Homo sapiens: one gene and its partners. The protein of the gene in region 1 purifies or fractionates together with the protein of each later gene. This does not show direct contact. Each region holds a gene or a part of one and is shown on either strand. Other genes may lie near its edges.

Evidence for each region.
Region 2: the proteins of KAT7 (region 1) and SERPINB5 purify together in Homo sapiens (affinity purification with mass spectrometry, with the first as the bait; one large-scale study listed by BioGRID). This does not show direct contact.
Region 3: the proteins of KAT7 (region 1) and POF1B purify together in Homo sapiens (affinity purification with mass spectrometry, with the first as the bait; one large-scale study listed by BioGRID). This does not show direct contact.
Region 4: the proteins of KAT7 (region 1) and KAT6A purify together in Homo sapiens (affinity purification with mass spectrometry, with the first as the bait; one large-scale study listed by BioGRID). This does not show direct contact.

What each region holds. Positions count from the first base shown.
Region 1 is NC_000017.11:49,787,311-49,791,480, forward strand, and holds the start of KAT7 (histone acetyltransferase KAT7), read left to right. Parts: upstream 1-1,370; 5' UTR 1,371-1,524; coding exon 1,525-1,539; intron 1,540-1,752; exon of another isoform or gene 1,753-1,800; intron 1,801-4,170. UniProt on the Homo sapiens protein: Catalytic subunit of histone acetyltransferase HBO1 complexes, which specifically mediate acetylation of histone H3 at 'Lys-14' (H3K14ac), thereby regulating various processes, such as gene transcription, protein ubiquitination, immune regulation, stem cell pluripotent and self-renewal maintenance and embryonic development.
Region 2 is NC_000018.10:63,482,781-63,488,057, forward strand, and holds part of SERPINB5 (serpin B5), read left to right. Parts: intron 1-1,641; 5' UTR 1,642-1,648; coding exon 1,649-1,816; intron 1,817-4,165; coding exon 4,166-4,303; intron 4,304-5,277. UniProt on the Homo sapiens protein: Tumor suppressor. It blocks the growth, invasion, and metastatic properties of mammary tumors.
Region 3 is NC_000023.11:85,302,066-85,307,342, reverse strand, and holds part of POF1B (protein POF1B), read left to right. Parts: intron 1-66; coding exon 67-180; intron 181-1,009; coding exon 1,010-1,162; intron 1,163-1,432; coding exon 1,433-1,552; intron 1,553-2,871; coding exon 2,872-3,000; intron 3,001-3,854; coding exon 3,855-3,937; intron 3,938-5,277. UniProt on the Homo sapiens protein: Plays a key role in the organization of epithelial monolayers by regulating the actin cytoskeleton. May be involved in ovary development.
Region 4 is NC_000008.11:42,040,888-42,046,164, reverse strand, and holds part of KAT6A (histone acetyltransferase KAT6A), read left to right. Parts: intron 1-2,589; exon of another isoform or gene 2,590-2,661; intron 2,662-5,277. UniProt on the Homo sapiens protein: Histone acetyltransferase that acetylates lysine residues in histone H3 and histone H4 (in vitro). Component of the MOZ/MORF complex which has a histone H3 acetyltransferase activity. May act as a transcriptional coactivator for RUNX1 and RUNX2.

The DNA.
Region 1 (4,170 bases):
AACCATTTTCAAATAAGTTCTTACGTGCAGTTCAACCTAAGTAGGTTATCAAAGGTATTTATACTAAGCACTAAAAGCTAAGTATTAAATACTAAAAGCTGCCTGTGTCAACACTGGCCCAGGACATCCCCAAGGAGAGTGCTGGCTAAAGGTCTGGAACTTTAAATCTTTAGAGTTCTTTACTTAGCACATCAATCAGATATTTACCTTCTGCTTCTTTGTTCTTTAGCCCTGCTCCTGGGGGAAATCTCCATCTTAACGGGGCCTCAGTTTGAAATTGGGGTTCGGGATCCTAACTTAATGACTGAGCGTGCCTGGGTTCCACCCAGTCGCAATTGGTCAAGACTTGGTCCTCTCAAGGCCTTTCCTCCGGAGAGGTTAAATCCTCAACGCCTGCTCTCCACTTTCCAGCCTTTTCTTAAGGCTCTTCTTTCAGCCTAGTATCTGTGACCAACTTCTCCTTCCTAGGCCCTCTCATTATTATTTAAATGTCCATTCTTTTGGGGGCTTCAACTTCACTAAAAACATTCCTTCCTCTTCCTCCGCCTCGTAACTCTCTGCTCAAGCATCTGGATGCCAGAGGTCATTTGAGCTAAATGGGGTTCAAAGCTTTTCTGACTCTGGTACTGCATTCCCCACTTTCAAATCACATTTTTCACCCCAGGGCCCCCAGTGGTCTCAAACCCAAACACAGTGCGGTTAGGAAGTGGGCACTCGCCACAGAGCTAAATTGGGAATTATTTGACCTGCAGCTTCTGGAGAATGGTTTTGCCTCCTCCCCGCGACATCAACTAACTCACTTGCTGTTAGCTAAGGGCAAGGACAATGTCTCCTCTACCAGACAGGAAACTTGATGGCGGACGCTATCCGTTAGTTCCTTTTTCAATTCCCCATTCCCACCCCTTCGAGACCACGATGTTTCTTAAAATACAAAGTTTCTTTTACAAAACATCCCTCCGCAACTTTGAGTTTATATAATAAACGGAAACGTCCTTTAAACAATCAGGCTACGAAGGGGTTAAATCTAATCTCAGCAACCTGATGGATTCTGGGGGGTTTCCTTCCTCGACTCTAGAAATTAAAACGAAATTTTGCCCAAGGTAAAGATGAGAACCGTTTACATCAACTGTCAGGCTTCTGCCCCAAACAAGAATGGCTACCCACGCCCACAAACAGAGCCACTCACGTAACTAAAAATGGTTGGCTCCGGGTTCCACCACTGGAGTCACTTTCTGCCCAACTTCAAAATGGCGCCCACTAGCTTCACCAAAAGGATCGAACTTCCCAGCACCCTCTCTGGCCCGTAACGTCAGGTGACGCGAGACCCAGCCGGAAGTGAAGGAAAAAGCGCTTCAGCCCGCGGCGCCTGCGCAGAACGCTCCAGACGCTGAGAGGCAGGAGGCACTAGGGATCGTCCGCAGGATTGGGACTGATACAGAGGCCGCCACGGAGCCCGCCGGAGCCACCGTTCCTGCTGCTGCCGCCGCTGCCCGAATCGGAACCGTCGGGCCGCAGCCGCCGGCAATGCCGCGAAGGAAGGTGAGAAACGGGAGAGGAGGGATGGCGGGTTTCTAAGGACAGTCGATTGAGCACCGTGACGCAGTTGGCCACGCCTCACAGTGCTTGGGTCCCAACTTTCCGCTCCCCCGAACCTTGTTCAGCTACCCTCTCTTCTGTCCATACCCAACAGAAAAATGTGGGCCCGACCCTGGCCTCGGCCTATGCTTGCAACTATTCCCGCCCTCTGCTTGCCTGGATCGGAGGCGTTCTTATTAATTGGTCGCTGAAACGTCTGGAAGCATATTGATTGGCTGGTGACGCCGCCTGTTTGGGCTCAACGGTCACCTCCCCGCGTGCGGGGGCGGTGTCTGGCCCCGGCCCCAGCGCTCTCCCACTGGCTGGAGAGAACGATCCCTCCTCTCCTGATTGGTCGAGGTTGGCAGTCTGTCCTGTGGGGGCGCGGCTTAGGCGGACCTCGATTGGGTGGCCCGAATCCCCGCCTTTCCGAGCGGGGACGCTGATAGGTGCAGAGGCGGGGTTTTGGAGGCCTCGTTACCTTCCAGGTGAGGGGCACAACAAAGCAGAAGACTGGGTGGTGGGAAGCCAGCGCCCACTCGCAGGGGATCCCTCTCAGGCCAGTTGCCTCTTTCCTTATTTGCTAGTTCGACAGCGCCTAGAAAATGCAGTTGGTAAAAACTAAAAACTTCTAGAATTAGAAGGCACTTAGAAGATCACCCAGGAATGGCCCCGTCGTTTCTTCTTACAGCTGAACTAACGGAGGCCCATGGAGTGCCGCAAGCCACTCAGGCAGTGGCAGATCCAGAATATAGAACAAATCTAACTCAATTCAACAAATGTCTATTGACTACTTTCTGCGCGGTGGTTGCTGTGGATTCAGAAATTAATTAGATGTGATCCCTGGCTTAAGGGTGTCACAGCCCGATAGGAGAAAACAGACATGAATAATCTTAGAAGGATCTAGTAAGTTCTCAGCTTGGAGGTGTATACAAGGTGTTGCTGGAAGGAAGTGAAGGAGCAGTTAAGTCTGCCCTGGAGTACAATGGGAGATATATTGGTAAAAGCCACAGAGAAGAGCTGAGTTCCAGGATCAAGCCAGGAAGGAATAAGTCTCACGTCAAGGCTTTAAATATCTCGGTAATTAGACTATAATGGTGACTTTTAAGATTCCCCCTTCATTTCAGCCGTTTTCTGTGATTCTTGCTCATTTCCTGGCAGGTTACCCTTAAGATACTTGGAAAACTGGGTGGTATTCTTGCTCATATCAATAGAAATCTTTCTCTTCACAGCGGCTTTTCAGGTTGAAAATGTACACTTTTTAATGTCTCCTAAAATGACCTCAGCTGGTGGGTGGTATGTATGTGTTTTTTTGTTTGTTTGTTTTTGAGACGAGGTTTTGCTCTTGTTGCCCAGGTCGGAGTGCGATGGCGTGATGTTGGCTCACTGCAACCTCCGCCTCCCGGGTTCAAGCGATTCTCCTGCCTCAGTCTCTCTAGTAGCTGGGATTACAGGCGGATTCCATGACGCCCAGCTAATTTTTGTATGTTTAATAGAGACGGGATTTCACCATGTTGGTCAGGGTGGTTTCGAACTCCTGACCTCAGGTGATCCACCCGCCTCGGCCTCCCAAAGTACTGGGATTACAGGCATGAGCCACCACGCCCGGCCGGTGGTATGTATGTAAAGGCTCACCAAATGCAGGAATAATATTGGTGCCTTGAAATAGGGCCACAGTCCTCTTTCTTAATTTCCCAAATACCGGGAGTTACTTGAAAATGTACATTTTTTTAGTAACCTGTTTGGCGGCAAACCTGTCTTAATCTGTCCTGAGGCTACTTATGGTTTTTGTGTGTCTCATTTAGTGTGACTGTTTATATTTTTTGCTGCAGAAATACTATTATGTTTTGTTATTGGGTGGTATTTGCAGGATACATGCAAAGTACTCCCCTTCTAAAAATCCAAAACAATTACAAATTCTAAACACAACTGGCCCTCAGGGTTTTGAATAAATAATTGGGACTTACAGTGTGAATCTTTGTATTGTTTTCAGTAAATATTTTTTCCTTTCTGGTTTTGTAAAGGGTATAGTGTTAGTGCTTAATTGATAAAAGTTATCTTTATGGCTAAGAAAGAACTCCTCAGGAGGATAATAATTGACAAATCCTTGCTCATTGAAAAGATGGTTTTGAAAACAACTGTTTTTGAATACCCATGAGTCTTCATGTGCAAGCTGCCTTTTTGGAAGATAGATGGCTTTCATGTGGAGAAACGTCAAGGATAGATGGCATACGCACTAACAATTTTCATCTTTTTCTGCTTAAATTCTTTTGGGATTAGAGTTGTGGTCCATGATATTTTGAGATAGTGTATGGTTTTTAAAAAATGTGATAGCTTTTCATGGAGACATTGAACAAAAGCTACTCTAAGTTAAATGAGGTCCAGCACCAACGATTTTCTCACTACAGTGGACCTTTTTTTGTGATATTGATCTCCAAATGGTCTTGGTTAATACTTAGTACTAATACAGTAAGAATTAATTCTCTTCATGGCCGGGTGTGGTGGCTCACGTCTGTAATCCCAGCACTTTGGGAGGCCAAGGCGGGTGGATCACCTGAGGTCAGGTGTTCAAGACCAGCCTGGCCAACATAGTGA
Region 2 (5,277 bases), on another chromosome or scaffold:
TGAAAACCAGACACATTTTGAAATGTTCATTTACTAATTTATTAAAATAATATAATAATTAAATACTAATATGAATAATATATATATTAAAAAACATTTTCTAAAGTGAAAAAATGTAATGAGAAGAGTGATATTGTTTTTCATTTTTGCAAATCTCCTTAATATTTGGCTTAATAGAAGGGATGTCATATAGCCTCTGGAAAACTCCGCTGTCTATTAGAGATTGAGAATGATAATGTCTTAGTATTATCATGAGAATAGTTTTAACCTCATGGACCTCCTGAAAGGGTGTTAGGGACTGCCAGGAGTCAAGACACAACACTTTGGAAGTTGCTGTGTTAAAATTAAAGAGCTCTGAGATGTGACAAGATGCCTAGTTGCTGCTATATCCACTTTACCAGGCTACATATTTTGAAACTGTTCCCTCTTTTCTTTAACTCCCATATTACTTATTATACCACTCACATGTCTTGGGCAGCTCTGTATTCTAGTTATTTGTCTGCATATCTGCCCAAAGAGACTATGAGCTTAGAGAAGGAGGAGGTCCACTGATCCTTGTAACACTCTGGGTAGTGTCTTACACACAGATGCGTATTATAAACGCAAACAATAACCGCTGCTGTTTATTAAGTATTGTTATGTGCTGGGTGTCCTGCAAAGGCATTAGTTACTTTAAGGGTTTTCTAGCACTTCTCACAAAGCACCACAAACCAGGCAGCTTAAAGCAACAGAAGCTTTATTCACCCACAGGCTTGGAGGCCAGTACTTTGAAATGACGATGTCGGCAGGGTCATGCTGTCTCAAAAGGCTCCAGGGGAGAATGTTCCATGACTTTCTCTTGGTTTCTGGTGTTGCCAGCAGTTCTTAGCATTCTTTGGCTTGTGGAAGCATCCCTCCAATCTCTGCCTCCATTGCCATACGGCATGCCCTTCACACAGGTGAAGACATTTGTGTCTTCACATCTTCCCTCTGTGTATGTCTGTTTCTGTGTCTCTCCTCTTATTCCTTTAAGGACACCAGTCATATCGGATTAGGGCTCACCTAACTCCAATGTAACTTCATCTTAACTAATTATATATTAGTTAAGAAATAGGACATACCCTGTTTCCACGTAAGGTCACATTCACAGGTAATGGGGATTAGGACTTAACATATCTTTTTGGGGGACACAATTCAACCCATTACACTTACTAAATATTAAACTGAACAATGCAAAACTGCTGCAATTCGACTGTTTTTGTTTTATAAAAGTTTTAACTTTGTAGTTTAACTGAAATCCTAATGGAAACAATATGTGATAAATAAAACCAACTGATGTTGATTAGTGCTGTCAACTTTTCTGACATATGCTGGAGAAGAGATGTGACCACTGGGCTCCCGACAATGGCCACTGTGGCTGAGCAGGCCCAAGACTGCAGAGTCTAGGCAGAGCTGGACACACAGAGGACCTCACATGCCTTCAGACATTTGCCTGGAAGTTTCTTCACAACTGATCTTACTTTTGAATTTACAGAAAGTTCCTTGTTTCTTCTGAGATCAATTACTTTGTTTAAATAGAATTCTTATAGTGTTGGCAGAATGCAGTTGAGAAGACGTTAAAGATGCTTTAGAAACTAACTGCTCCCTTGTCCTTGCTTCCAGGCCCGCAATGGATGCCCTGCAACTAGCAAATTCGGCTTTTGCCGTTGATCTGTTCAAACAACTATGTGAAAAGGAGCCACTGGGCAATGTCCTCTTCTCTCCAATCTGTCTCTCCACCTCTCTGTCACTTGCTCAAGTGGGTGCTAAAGGTGACACTGCAAATGAAATTGGACAGGTAAGCCCCAAAACCTTGTTTCTACTTTAAGTGGGAATACAGTTATTAGAACCCATAGGCAGTGCCTACGGAAAAAAGGAATGTAGACTTTGTGGCCAGAATTGGTCAAGATTCAGAACTGTGCCATTCCAGGACTCTCTTAATCTTTTTTTTTTTTTTTTTTTTTTGTGAGACAGGGTCCCACTCTGTCACCCATGCTGGAGTGCAGTGGTGCGATGTTGGCTCACTGCAGCCTCCAGGTTCAAGCGATTGTTGTGCCTCAGCCTGCCGAGTAGCTGGGATGACAGGCGCGTGCCACAACGCCAGGCAAATTTTTGTATTTTTAGTAGAGACAGGGTTTCACCATGTGGCCAGGCTGGTCTCGAACTCCTGACTTCAGGTGATCCGCCTGCCTCGGCCTCCCAAAATGCTGGGATTACAGGCATCTTAATTTATTTTTAAATGTGAAAGCTCGCTTGTAGGTAATGCAACTCACATCTGGGACAGGCACCAGGCTGTGATGGAGAACCTGGAGATCTGCTGGGTAATCACAGCTTTTTCATTCTGACTTATAATATTTTCAATTTACAATGGTTTTATTGAGATGTAACCTCATCATAAATCAAGCAGCATCTGTATCGTTTTAGGGTTTCTTTCTGGCTATGGTTGATTATCTAGCTTTGTAAAGTTCTTAGACCTTCAAATGAGACAATTTTCCTGATTGTTCCGTTTTAAGTCCTCATGTACTTTTACATAATAGGTGAATGTTCTTCTAATTCTATTTCATTATTACTCTTATGCTAATCATTCTAGGTTCAATAGAATTTCTTTTCTATTAGCTCATAAGCATTTAAAAAGGCAACACCTTCTTGTATTCATATGTGTCCAGAAAGTATGGCCCATAAGAGTTATTTAGGTAAGGATGAAGAATTTACACTTGGGACTTGAAGCAGCTTCACTCCTGTGAAGAGGAGATGTATCTTGACATCAAGCCACATCTCTGAACTGCGCAACTCCACTATCCCTACCCAATCTCCCATTCCTCATTTCTCATCTACCATTAGAGAAAGGCCAGCGAAAGAGAACTTCCGGGTAGTGGGTCTGTTCCTCAGTAATTCCTCAAGCTCTTCTCAGTATATGCAACTGGTTCCCCAGCAGTAGTTACCTGGGCTCTTAAATTTTCTGGTCTCCTTCATCCATCTTTAGGCATGAGAGTTATGCACTGTCTGGGACCAGCATTTGACCCTGCAATGCTGAGGCTATGTAATTCATTGGGACAATGTGCCGGTTTGGCAGCGTTCGTTATCTGGGTTGTGGAATCACAGCATGGCCATTATGAGTTATGGAGCGAGGAGGGTGTCATCTTATGCTGACATTACATGTTGTGGTGTTGCAAGGCAGAAAAGATGCTGGACTATTGGTTGGAACAATAAAAAAAAAAAAGGAAAAAAATACAATGATTTAAGCCCTCCAAATGATAGTATCCTGGTTTTAAATGGCTTACAATATTATTACAAGAATAATTAACAGTTTGAATCCATATAATATTTTACGTGTTTTACATATAAGTAATCCTCATTAACAACTCAGGAAAGCAGGTATTTTCAGCCCATTTTACGGAGAGGAAAGGAGGCTCTGAAGAGTTGGAGAAGATTCTCTGAAGAGTTGGAGAAGAGGTGGTGAAGGCTGGGATTCACAGGCAGGGCCATCTGACTCTAGCCAGCCCAGGGCAGCCCACCATTTATTGTAGCTGCCCATCAGAAATGACACATCTATTTACCTGGCATTTGCTAAAGCACCCAGAGGGACTAGACAGACTCTGGCTAGAGGCACTTGTCCTGAAATCTGATTCCTGCCTGATGATGGTGTCTCTTGTATCAATCTCTCTCTCTGGTCTTTGAATTGGATAGAAATTATAACCCAGCTTCATCGTTCTCCAAGTTTGGAAATCCTTCTGTGTGAGTATTAAGGGCATCACTTTGAAGAAAGGACAAATGTTCTCGATGGTTGATTTGGAAGAGTACCTTTATGGTAGTGTTTCTCAGTGGGGACAATTTGTCCTCCCCTTCCCACTCTGGGATAATCTGGCAATGTCTGGAGACATTCTGGGTTCTCACAAATAGGAGGAGGATGCCACTGGCATCTAGTAGGTCAGCGATGCTGCTAAGCATCCTGCAGTGCCCAGGACAGCCCCACAAAGACTCATCCAGCCTGAATGTCAATAGTGCTGAGGTTGAGGAGCCTTACTTTACGGGAACTAGGCAGGAGGAGTCTGTATGCCCAAGGACGTTGGTCATTATCACGTGTCCACTTCAGTACAGCACTACTCAGAGGCAATGCTTTTTGGGTAACGGATTTTTCTCTTAACAGGTTCTTCATTTTGAAAATGTCAAAGATGTACCCTTTGGATTTCAAACAGTAACATCGGATGTAAACAAACTTAGTTCCTTTTACTCACTGAAACTAATCAAGCGGCTCTACGTAGACAAATCTCTGAATCTTTCTACAGTAAGTTGTTTAAAGCAAGTAGCAAGACTTAACTTTTTACAAGGAGTGGCATTTTCATGCTGTTAGACCTACAACTTTTTTTCAGTGAAATTCCTTTCTAGGATGTTCACTTGTGATTTGAGGCTTTAAATAAATAAATCCTAGTGGAGAGGTTGAGTATAGTGGGAATCAATTGCAGTCACATCTTCTAACTCAAAATACAGAGAAGCTTATGGGCTTTCCTTTTCTCTCTCAAATAAATCTTACCCTTTCTTTTACCTTCCTCTGAGAGAATGGAGAACAGAGTAATTAACTCTCTAATAAATGTAGCTCCATAGACAATGAGCTGTCTTACAGAGTGTAAGACAGCTAATGATTTAAACTTCTTTCTCCTTAAAGAGCAGGGCATATGGCCTGGGACAATGTTTTAAGCTCTCCACCTCATTTTTTATGCACACATTCTTCTGATGTTTCTCAAAATCAGTAAGAAAAATAATAACTATGAATTCACAATTTTCATCAGTCACAAATTAGTTTTGTTGGCTGGGCTGGTCAGATGGGGATCTCCACAGGCAGCTCTGGTTATATAAGTTTAGCCATTGCTCTAAGGAATCATACAAACACCACTACGGTACCCATTGTTGTAATATTTAAAAATCTGTATTTGAAACACACAGACAATATTCTAGACTACATGAAGTTTCCCTCTGTACTTCAGTAACACAGAGTTGATTTAGTTCCTGTTTGGATGGTCAGAATTTCAAGGTTTCCAAATCGAAAAGCTAGACTACCAGCTTTTAAATATTTTACCATGATTTTGCAACTTTCTGCAGTAGGTATTTTTGTGGTTAAGATCTTTTGAGGACATGGGTTACTAGATATTGTGAGTATATTTTTTGTTGCTTAAAGATACATACACACAACCATTTTTCTTCCAACAATCATCTGAAGAATTTAAAAAAAAAAACTGAGATGTGAGTTGAAGCCTGAGCATA
Region 3 (5,277 bases), on another chromosome or scaffold:
TCTTTGTATTATGTGACTGTTAAGTTTTTGCAATTCTGAATCATAATAAATAATTTATGCTTCTAGTCACTGGAAAATGACAAGATGAGACTTGAGAAAGATTTATCATTCAAAGACACTCAATTAAAAGAGTACGAAGAACTCTTGGCATCAGTGAGAGCAAATAATCACCAGCAGCAGGTAAACTGATGCTTTTATTGGTGTTAATCTACATTGATAGCTTTTCATATGCACAATTACTGGCACATTGGAGTTATGAGATATAATCAAGACAGAATTAAATATGATGGAAAAATTTGTTCATATGAGAATTGAGTGGCTTTGGGTATTTCTAATGGCTGAAAGCCCTCTCAGAAAAACAGATAATCTTATCTATTTTAGATATAAAGTACATATGGGACACAATTATTTGTCTTGTTGGGTGACCAGAATTGTAGAAATACTAAAAATCTAGGTTCATGCATTTATTTAATGTACTAACATGTCAATGAGAAAAGCTGTTGTAGACCTTAATACATGTTTGTGCAATAAATAAATGACTGAAAAAACTCTAGATGAATTCTCTGGATGTCTGAGCAGAGAGAATTCCTAGGAAATTGTAAGTAGTCTCTAAGGATTACCCTCTTCCTGATCTTTACTCCTATGGCTGTCCCAAATTCTTGCTCAGTTACTAGTTGTCATGTAAATAATCAGGCATATGGTCGTTTCTGTGCCTACTAGAAAGCAGGGTACAGTATTGTCACAGAGTAGCAAGAGTCTGATTGTTAAATTGAGACATTATAAATTCATCTAGTCATGATTCCCTCTCTCACAAAATAGATGAGTGAGACTAGAGGCAACACTATAATATCTTACATGGGTGACTTAATGTACCATCTAAGACCCAGAGTATAAGAAAACTGGGCATAGGAAAATATTTACTTGATTCAATTGAATGAATCAATAAAAAGAACACTCCCTCACCAAAAACAAAATGCATTTGTCTTATGTACTTGTGTCTTCTTTACAGCAAGGACTTCAAGACTCAAGTTCAAAATGCCAGGCATTGGAAGAAAACAATCTCTCTCTTCGACATACACTATCAGACATGGAATACAGACTAAAAGAACTGGAATATTGTAAACGTAATTTAGAGCAAGAGAATCAAAACCTTAGAATGCAGGTATTAAAACTTCCTTTTAAATATACAGTATTACCTTAGTTACATCATTGTAATCCTAGCATTTAGAAAACATATGGACTGCTTTCCCTCACATACTGTTAGATCTTAATCACTGACATTTGAGCTTTATAATGCAGTTCCTGAAAATCACTTTCATTATTTCAATGTCTTATTTAATCATGTGGTTTTCATCTAATAACAATCCTTGTAACATAACATGTATTTTCTTCAAAACAATCCAATTACAGATAGTTATTTTGCCTTCTGTAGGTTTCTGAGACTTGCACAGGCCCAATGTTGCAGGCTAAAATGGATGAGATTGGCAACCACTACACGGAGATGGTAAAAAACTTGAGAATGGAGAAAGATAGAGAGATCTGCAGACTGAGGGTATGTTGATCCTACATTGCATAAATACACAGGTCAGCACAAACTTTCTAGCAAGATAATGATGGCTTCAAGTTTAAAGCTACCAGAAAAAATTAGCTGAAGGTAGAGTTTTAGAAATATGTCATGTATTCATTTGTTTTAAATACATTACTGTATCTAAAATATAACTGTTAAATGATTTTCTAATTTAGCTTAATTTCTTCTAGGAAAGTAAAAGAAGATATTCATTTCAGTGGTTTGGTTTTGGTTTTTATTAATTTATTTTTTGGGATAGATGGAGGACTCTTCATGATCTTGCCTAAAGCATGCTTATGTAGGCAAAAGCAATATATGAAATTACTCAACAGAGCCATAGTTAGATTTGTAAAAATTCTCACTTAATTTCGAGGGATGATGAATAGCAAGGACTTTGTCAAGCATGAGGAGGAAAACAGTGTTAAGTTTTAGGTACCTATAGTTGACATCAAAATTAAGGTGATATTTATAAGTATATATTGCCTTAACTTGTAATTCTAGGTTGAATTTACTTAATCTAACCCTTATTTTACTGATTCCTAAAGGTAGTAAAATATACTTAAATATTTTAATAAACAAAATAATCACAAATTTGTCTCTCCAAACATCACTGTATAATTTTTACCAAAAATCAAAATGAAACAAAATATAATTTGTTTTCCAAACCTACCAATACTTCTAGCAGATTTCCTCCACTGATTTCTTTTCCATTCCAACATTACTAACAGCACTTCTACCTAAGCTACACACATATGAGGTAAAGAGGGAAATGGACAAGATTTGTAGTCAGAAGACCTGTTTTGGAGTTGCAGCTATGTTACTGCGTGACTGTGTCATTTAACCTCTCTGGAGCCCATTATCTGTTTTGTAAATGAAGATTATAATAATGCTTATTTCATGGGACTGCTGTGAGAACTGAGATAATTCATGCAGGAGGAATATTTTGTGAACTGAAAATCAGAATATAATAGTAGTAATTTGTTATTGCTATTTCCTTAATTATTATTTCAAGGACTCTAAAGTGCCTGTTTTCTTAGCTTTACTTTAAATTTTGTGGCCTAAGACTGTTACGTAGATAATGTTTAGTCCTACATAGCAAAGACACCTTAAAAAAAGGAGAAATTTGTAATTGGCATTTCATTTCATATTACATACTCATGAAATTCTTCGAACGTTTATGACTATTGGTATTTTACTTTCATTTCATAACTGTGTGAGTTTGTGTCACTTAACCTCCCTGGAACTCAGTTACACATTTTCTATATGAAGATTATAATAATATTTATTTCTTTTTAAATCCTTAGTCCCAATTAAACCAGTACCATAAAGATGTTTCAAAGAGAGAAGGAAGTTGTAGTGACTTCCAATTTAAGCTTCATGAACTGACAAGCTTGCTGGAAGAGAAGGATTCCCTCATAAAGCGTCAGTCAGAGGTATAAAAGGAAGGGGTGGGGATGGAGAAAAGTAATACAACTTAGTACTGTAGTACTGTAGGATAAATACTTCCCATGGACTAGAAAAGGACACATATCCAAGAGTCACTTTATTTAATGAAATAAAATGTAGGTGCAAGTGAGGAAGTAGAATATACATATTTCAGGAGACACAATTCAAATGAAAGTTACAATTGAAGCAAAAAATAAGTGCTGTTATACATTTAATATTTTTAAGACATTGATTTTATATTTCATTAGCAGTGAAATTCCCAGTAGACTGTGACCTCCTTACTACATTATGAGCTGCTTCATTAAAGCATGTGTTATATTCCTCCTTGTATCTGTAGCATGTAGCCCATGACCTGGCATTCAATAGGTACTGAAGGAATTGTCAAAAATTATGGGTAATATTGTATTGCTGTTATGGAGCAAATGGTGCTTGTAGTAACATTCATTGATAAACTCTCTCTTAAGAAACTATATCTGCTTATATATTGAAGTTTCAATACTTTTCTTCTATGGATATACTTTTCAGGCTTTTCAGAGCAAAAACTTTCACATCCTCATCCTGAGAACCACGCCCATTCAATCTCAAGTTATCCTCCAAATTTAGATATCCTGTATCAGTTGCAGGTTCCTGCACCGGCATATAATATAACTTATTAGGTACTGTGAAGCAACACTAGGTGATATTCAACAAGTGGGATTAGAACATTATTACGTCAAGGCTAAAAAGGGGTAAAAGGGAGGGGGTATAATCATTGTTAGTAACCCTTCTAAATGATTAAATATATTTATTATCTCATGTTTCTACTTTCCATCAAATGATTATATTATCTTTTATTTGTAAGGAACTCTCCAAGTTGCGGCAAGAAATATATTCCTCTCATAACCAACCCTCCACTGGTGGAAGGACTACTATTACCACTAAAAAGTAATGTATTTTTAAATGAAATTTGAATATAAAAATTATGATCATATAATCCAAGTTATTTCATGTTTAATTGGTATATACAAGCTAGACAGAGTTTGGTGTTTTCTGCTGGCCAGTTATTCTACTGAAGAATGAATATTCACAAAAAGACATCACTATTGTGGTCAAAAAAATCCTGAAGCACATCTTTCCTGAATTTACAATATATTAATTACCTTGGAAGTGAAAAACAAATAATTGTTTTTTTAACCAACCACATTAGTTAGGACTCTTTCTGTTTCATGTGACAAGAGACCCAATGTAAACTGGGACTTTTTAAATTCACTTAAATGGGGTTACTTGGTATCCAGATGGATTTGTGTGTTCAAAATATGCCTTTATAAATATGTCTTTCTTTATATCTTGGCTCTGCTCTTTCCTGTGTAGACATCTTAATCAGGTAAGGTCTACCCTCACGGTAGCAATATGACCACAAATTACATTCCAGCCATTTAGCAAAACCAAATATAAAGTAATTATGAATAGCTTCAGCAGAAGTCTATTTTGGATATTTCATATAAATGAAATAATACAACATATAGTCTTTTGTGTCTGGATTTTTCATTTTGCATAATGTTTGCAGGATGCAAGCATGATTTAGCATGAGTCAAGACTTCATTCCTTTTGGTTGCTAAATAATATCCAGTTGTATGGATATACATTTTATTTATTGATTAATCAGTTGGACATTTGGGTTGTTTTCAATTTTTGGCTATTGTGAATAATGCTGCTGTGAACGTCTGTGTACAAGTGTGTAAGGTACATGTATTCATTTCTTTTGAGTATATACCTAGGAGTGGAATTGATAGGTCACATGATAACTCTATGCTTAAGGAATTGCCATACTGTTTTCTAAAGCAAAAGCACCATCATACATTCCTAGTAGTGTATGACGGTTCCACTTTCTCCCCATCCTCGTTGCCATTTGTTATTGTTCATCTCTTGGATTATGGCCATCCTAGGTGGTGGAAAGTGGTATCCAATTGGAGTTTTGATTTGTATTCCCTAATAACTAATGTTTTTTAGCAATTTTTATGTGCTTATTGGCCATTTATACATCTTGTTTGAAGAAATGTCCATTCAATTTTTTTCCATTTTTTAAGTGAGTTGTCTTTTTATAGTTGAATTGCAAGAGATTTTCACATGTTCACAAGTCCCTTATCAGAGACAAGATTTGCAAATATTTTCATCAATTCCATGGGTTGTCTTTTCACTATCTTGAGAGTATAATATGCAGCATAAGTATTTAATATAGAAAAAAATCCAATTCATCTATATTTTTTCTTGCTTGTGCTTTTGGT
Region 4 (5,277 bases), on another chromosome or scaffold:
ATATTTTTAAAAGGTAGTAAATATAGTACAGTGCAAGACAAATCCAAGTCCTAGAACCCTGAGATTTTACTTTTGGAAGGGACCCTGAGAACCGTCTAATCCAAGTCCTTATTTTGCAGCTGAGCTAAGGACCTTTGTTGAGACCATTTCATAGCACCTTTGCATTAAGAAAAGTTTAATTCAGTAGAGATGTGCTGTTTTGCTTTGACTGGAGTGCAGTGGTGTGATCTCAGCTCACTGCAACCTTCGCCTCCCGGGTTCAAGCGATTCTTCTGCCTCAACCTCCTGAGTAGCTGGGATTATAGGTTTGCGCCACCACGTGTGGCTACTTTTTTTTTTTTTTTTTTGTATTTTTAGTAGAGACAGGGTTTCACCATGTTGGCTAGGCTGGTCTCAACTCCTGACCTCAAGCGACCTGCCCACCTCGGTCTCTCAAAGTGCCAAGATTATAGGAATGATCCACCGCACCTGGCCACATTTGATTTTGGAGAAATAAAGCAAGAAAAACAAAAGTGATTTAATAATTGAAAAAATGAAAAAGAAATGCCCATTTGCTTACATAGCTTTCATATATAGTGTTTTTTTGTTTTTTTTTTTTTTTTGAGATGGAATTTCGCTCTTGTTGCCCAGGCTGGAGTGCAGTGGCACGATCTTGGCTTACTGCAGCCTCCGCTGCCCAGGTTCAAGCAATTCTTCCTTCTCAGCCTCCCATGTAGCTGGGATTACAGGCATGCTGACCACCATGCCTGGCTAATTTTGTATTTTTAGTAGAGACGGGGTTTCTCCCTGTTGGTCAGGCTCATCTCGAACTCCCAACCTCAGGTGATCCGCCCACCTTGGCCTCCCAAAGTGCTGGCATTACAGGCATGAGCCACCCTGCCTATAGTGTTAACTGAAGTAACTAAATTTAGACATGTTGGAAAATAGAGTTTGTTTCTTCAGGTAGACTTGTATATGTACTAATCTCATTGGAAAACTAATTTCATGATAGTATCTATTCAATTAGAGTTGGTGAGCTCTGTTCTATATTTTTAAATGGAGTCTTATTTTCAGTAGTGAATTTCCTGTGTGACTTCCCCCAAAGATATGAAAAGTTTACATTAAAAATCGTAATACAGTGAACTCTAGGATGAGAGATTATTCCTTTGAACAGATTATGTCTGCTCCTTTTATTGTATTTTAACTATTTTCTTTCCTCTCCTTCGAACTACGCAGTCAGTTGCTATGCAGAATTGATAGTTTGCTGTTACGAACCTAGATGTTCTCAAAAAAAGAAAAGAATTATCCAGAGTTTATTTGACAGTGATGGAGAAAGGAAGGTGTATAGGTCAGGAGTAGTTTCACTTTTAGGAATTAATTGGTTCAGCATATAGTCATTGAGCACCTACTGTGGGCCAGGCACTCTGCTTGGAACAGAAACAGTTCTGTCTTCTCTGGGATGCTAATGCAGGTATTTCTATTGACCTGGCCAACTGTAAGGTGAAGATGAAATTCAAAGACTGCGTGGAGTAACCCGAGCAAGTTCCTCTTTACTTTTTCTGGTATCAATTCTAACTTTTTGTTTTTTTTTGGTGATATTAACCTTTGGAAGGAACTGTATGTTAGATTTTCGGCAGCTGAGTGGTTTTGATCCTTTTGGGAGATCAACTGTGTTGGAATACGTTTAAGAGGAGTTTTTGTGAAGACATTGGAACTTTAGTGTGTTCTTTTCACATTGATAAGTACTGAGGAGAATCCATGGGATACTGTGATTAAAAGTTTTTAGGCCAGGCCTGGTGGCTCAGGCCTGTAATCCCAGCACTTTGGGATGCCGAGGGGGGGGTGGATCACCTGAGGTCAGGAGTTCAGGACCAGCCTGGCCAATATGGTGAAACCCCATCTCTACAGAATACAAAAATCAGCCCGGCATGATGGTGGGTGCCTGTAATCCCAGCTACTCGGTAGGCTGAGGCAGGATAATCGCTTGAACCCAGGAGGCGGAGGTTGTAGCGAGCCTAGATTGTGCCACTGCACTCCAGCCTGGGCAACAGAGCAAGACTCCATCTCAAAAAAAAAAAAAAAAAAAAGTTTTTACCCATGTTATAAGGGAAATTTTTGAGCTAACTTTAGAGTGTGGTAGTTAATGGTGAGTTTATTTATTAAAGTGTTTATTTACTATGTGCCAGGCGTTATTTTAATGCTGTATATATATTAACTCATTTAATCCTCTAACATAACTAGCTACTGTTAGGTTAGTTAGTTATTAATAACATAACAGTACCAGCAGTGAAATAGCTACTGTTATTTTACAGGTGAAGAAACTGAGGCATAAAAGAGATTTCAGTAACTTGCTGAAGTCACACAAATATTAGGTGGCAGAGCTGGGATTTGAATTTGGGCAGTCTGGCTCCAGAGTCTTTGTAATAGCCATACTGACCACCTCTTAGGAGCAGTAATGTATGATGGCTATCACTGCACTCAAGTACAGAATCGTGAATGTCCTTGGTGTTAACTTCATAGCACATTTCCTAATTGTTAAAGGACAAATTCCCGCCCGTCTTCATTGTGTCCATTTTTCTTTTTTTGCAGAACAGATTTGAAAATTCACTTTGGACCAGTGATAAGAATGTGTTAGGAACCAAAGATTAGGAGTAATCTAGTTTTGTATATCTGAGGTCCATTAAAAAAAAGTTTCACCTACATGCCATTTTTTTCCCTTAAAGATAATTTCTGTGCTAACTAATTTTCATTTCAGTTGTCACTAACATTTTCTGATAGGCAAGGTAGGGATCAGTTGTATTGCTATACCAGAGTGCTTTAATTTGGGACAGAAATACTGTTTTCCTTGAATCATGGGATTATAGGTGAGGAGAAGAGTGTGTAACTGGCTTAAATAGCATCTTCCTCTTTGTAAATTTCTTTTTGAAATATAGATATTACTGTAAGGTAATTTGTTCCATTTACTTCAGTTATTCATTATTTATTTAGCAAACATTTGAATGCCTGCCATGAACAGTGGATTTAAGATTTAGGTCCTGTGAGGGGATTAAAGCAGACAGAATAGAGATACAAAATAAATTTTTTGAAAGCCTTTTTTAGTTTATGAACTGTAATTTTTTTACATTATTATTTTTTCATAACAATTAAGTATCATGACTCAGAAATAATAATATGTTTAGTGGGCAAGGCAATTATTTGAGACTGTGATGGTCCATTTAAAAAATTATCTTTATATAGTGAGTCTTGGAAAGATTCAATTTCCTTTCAAGAATAGTTTTCACCTTGATTTCAAACTTCTGAGTTCATTTTTACACACTGACATAATTTACTTGAATATATATAGTTTGTGTTCTGTATTACTAGCCCAGAAAAATATTCTCTTTCATGGTAATCAGCCAGATCATTAAAAGTATTGTTATTTGGTGGCATAGTATTTTGGAACAGAATTATAATTTGCTAAAGCGTTCAGTTGGACAGGGAAGAGTAGGTATTGTCAACTAATGTTATTGTTCAGGTTACTCCCAGCTGGGTAACCTGGAGCAGAAAGATCCAATGATAAATCTCTTGCCTTCTACTCTAAGTTACATCTCAATTTGGTCAACTCTTAGTAGAGTCCAAATTATTTTGTTTTATTGGAATTTATATTTTAAATTATAGAGGAAGTAGAGCTTTGACAGGAATTTAGAATTTAAATTTTCGATGTAGAGATACTGATTAAAATGGGGATTTTTTTTTTTTTTTTGAGAGATGGAGTCTTGCTTTGTTGCCCAGGCTGGAGTGCAGTGGTGCAACCTCCACCTCCTGGGTTCAAGCGATTCTCCTGCCTCAGCCTCCCGAGTAAGCTGGGATTATAGGCGCATGCCACCATGCCCGGCTAATTTTTATATTTTTAGTAGAGATGGGGTTTCACCAGGTTGGCCAGGCTGGTCTCGAACTCCTGACCTCATGATCCGCCTGCCTCGGCCTCCCAGAGTGCTGGGATTATAGGCGTGAGCCACCGTGCCCGGCCAGGGATATGTTTTTAAGTTACTGAAAGTTAAGAGTGATGAAGTTTTGATTTAGCTATTTGGAAATGACCTTTATAGTAGAATAGTTGCACATTTTATATGTTAGAATGGTGGTATTTTATAAGAAAATTGTTAACCAATATAAGCTTGGAAATTTCAATTTCAATTACTCTGTTGCGTTGATACTGTATAAAAAGGCAATAAATAGTTGTCCATGCTATTAAATTCAGGGCTATGTGGACTGCTTGACAGAATGATTGTTCACTTTGGAAAAACAAAAAAAACAAAAAATCTTCTGAAGGCAAAAGATAAAATATTGAGGATACAGTGACGTGGAAAATGTAGCTATTATCAAGTGTGAAATGGATTGATCTCAGTAATTGTTATATTTAATAATTTAAACATTTTTTATGACATGCATTTCTTTTCTTTTTTTTTTTTGAGATGGAGTCTTGCTCTGTTGCTTAGGCTGGAGTGCGGTGGCCCAGTTTCAGCTCACTGCAACCTCCGCCTTCCAGGTTGAAGCAATTCTACTGCCTCTCCCCTCCTGCTGTCTGCGATTACAGGCGTGTGCCACCATACCTACCTAATTTTTGTATTTTTAATAGAAATGGGGTTTCACCATGTTGGCCAGTTGTGTTCTCGAACTCCTGACCTCAGGTGATCCGCCCACCTCCGCCTCCCAAAGTGCTAGGATTACAGGCGTCAGCCACCATGCCCGGCCCATGCCGTACATTTCTGACATCATTGTTTATACCATTTGTTTGTGACTCCAAATGTACCAGGAGCAGTGGCCTAGAAATAAAAATTTGTTACTAACAAGTCATTGAGGTGGATTAATTGTAAATCTGGTTAGGAATTAATTTTGTCTTAGCAGATTTATTCTTCAAAAATTCAGAAATTTAAAAATAACTCAGAGATATGTTTGTAAAATAGTATCTGTTTAAGTACAATCAGCTGCACAGTTTTTTTTTTTTTTTTTTTTTGAGACGGAATCTCACTCTTGCCCAGACTGGAGTGCAGTGGCGCAACCTTGGCTCACTGCAACCTCTGCCTCCCAGGTTCAAGTGATTCTCCTGCCTCAGTCTCCCAAATAGCTGGGATTACAGGCATGCGCCACCATGCCTGGCTAATTTTTGTATTTTTAGTAAAGATGGGGCTTCACTGTGTTGGCCAGACGAATCTCAAACTCCTGATTGGCTTCCCAAAGTGCTGGGATTATAGGTGTGAGCCACTGTACCTGGCCAACTGTGCAGATTTTTTTGATCTTCTGGTTCACCTATGAGCACAA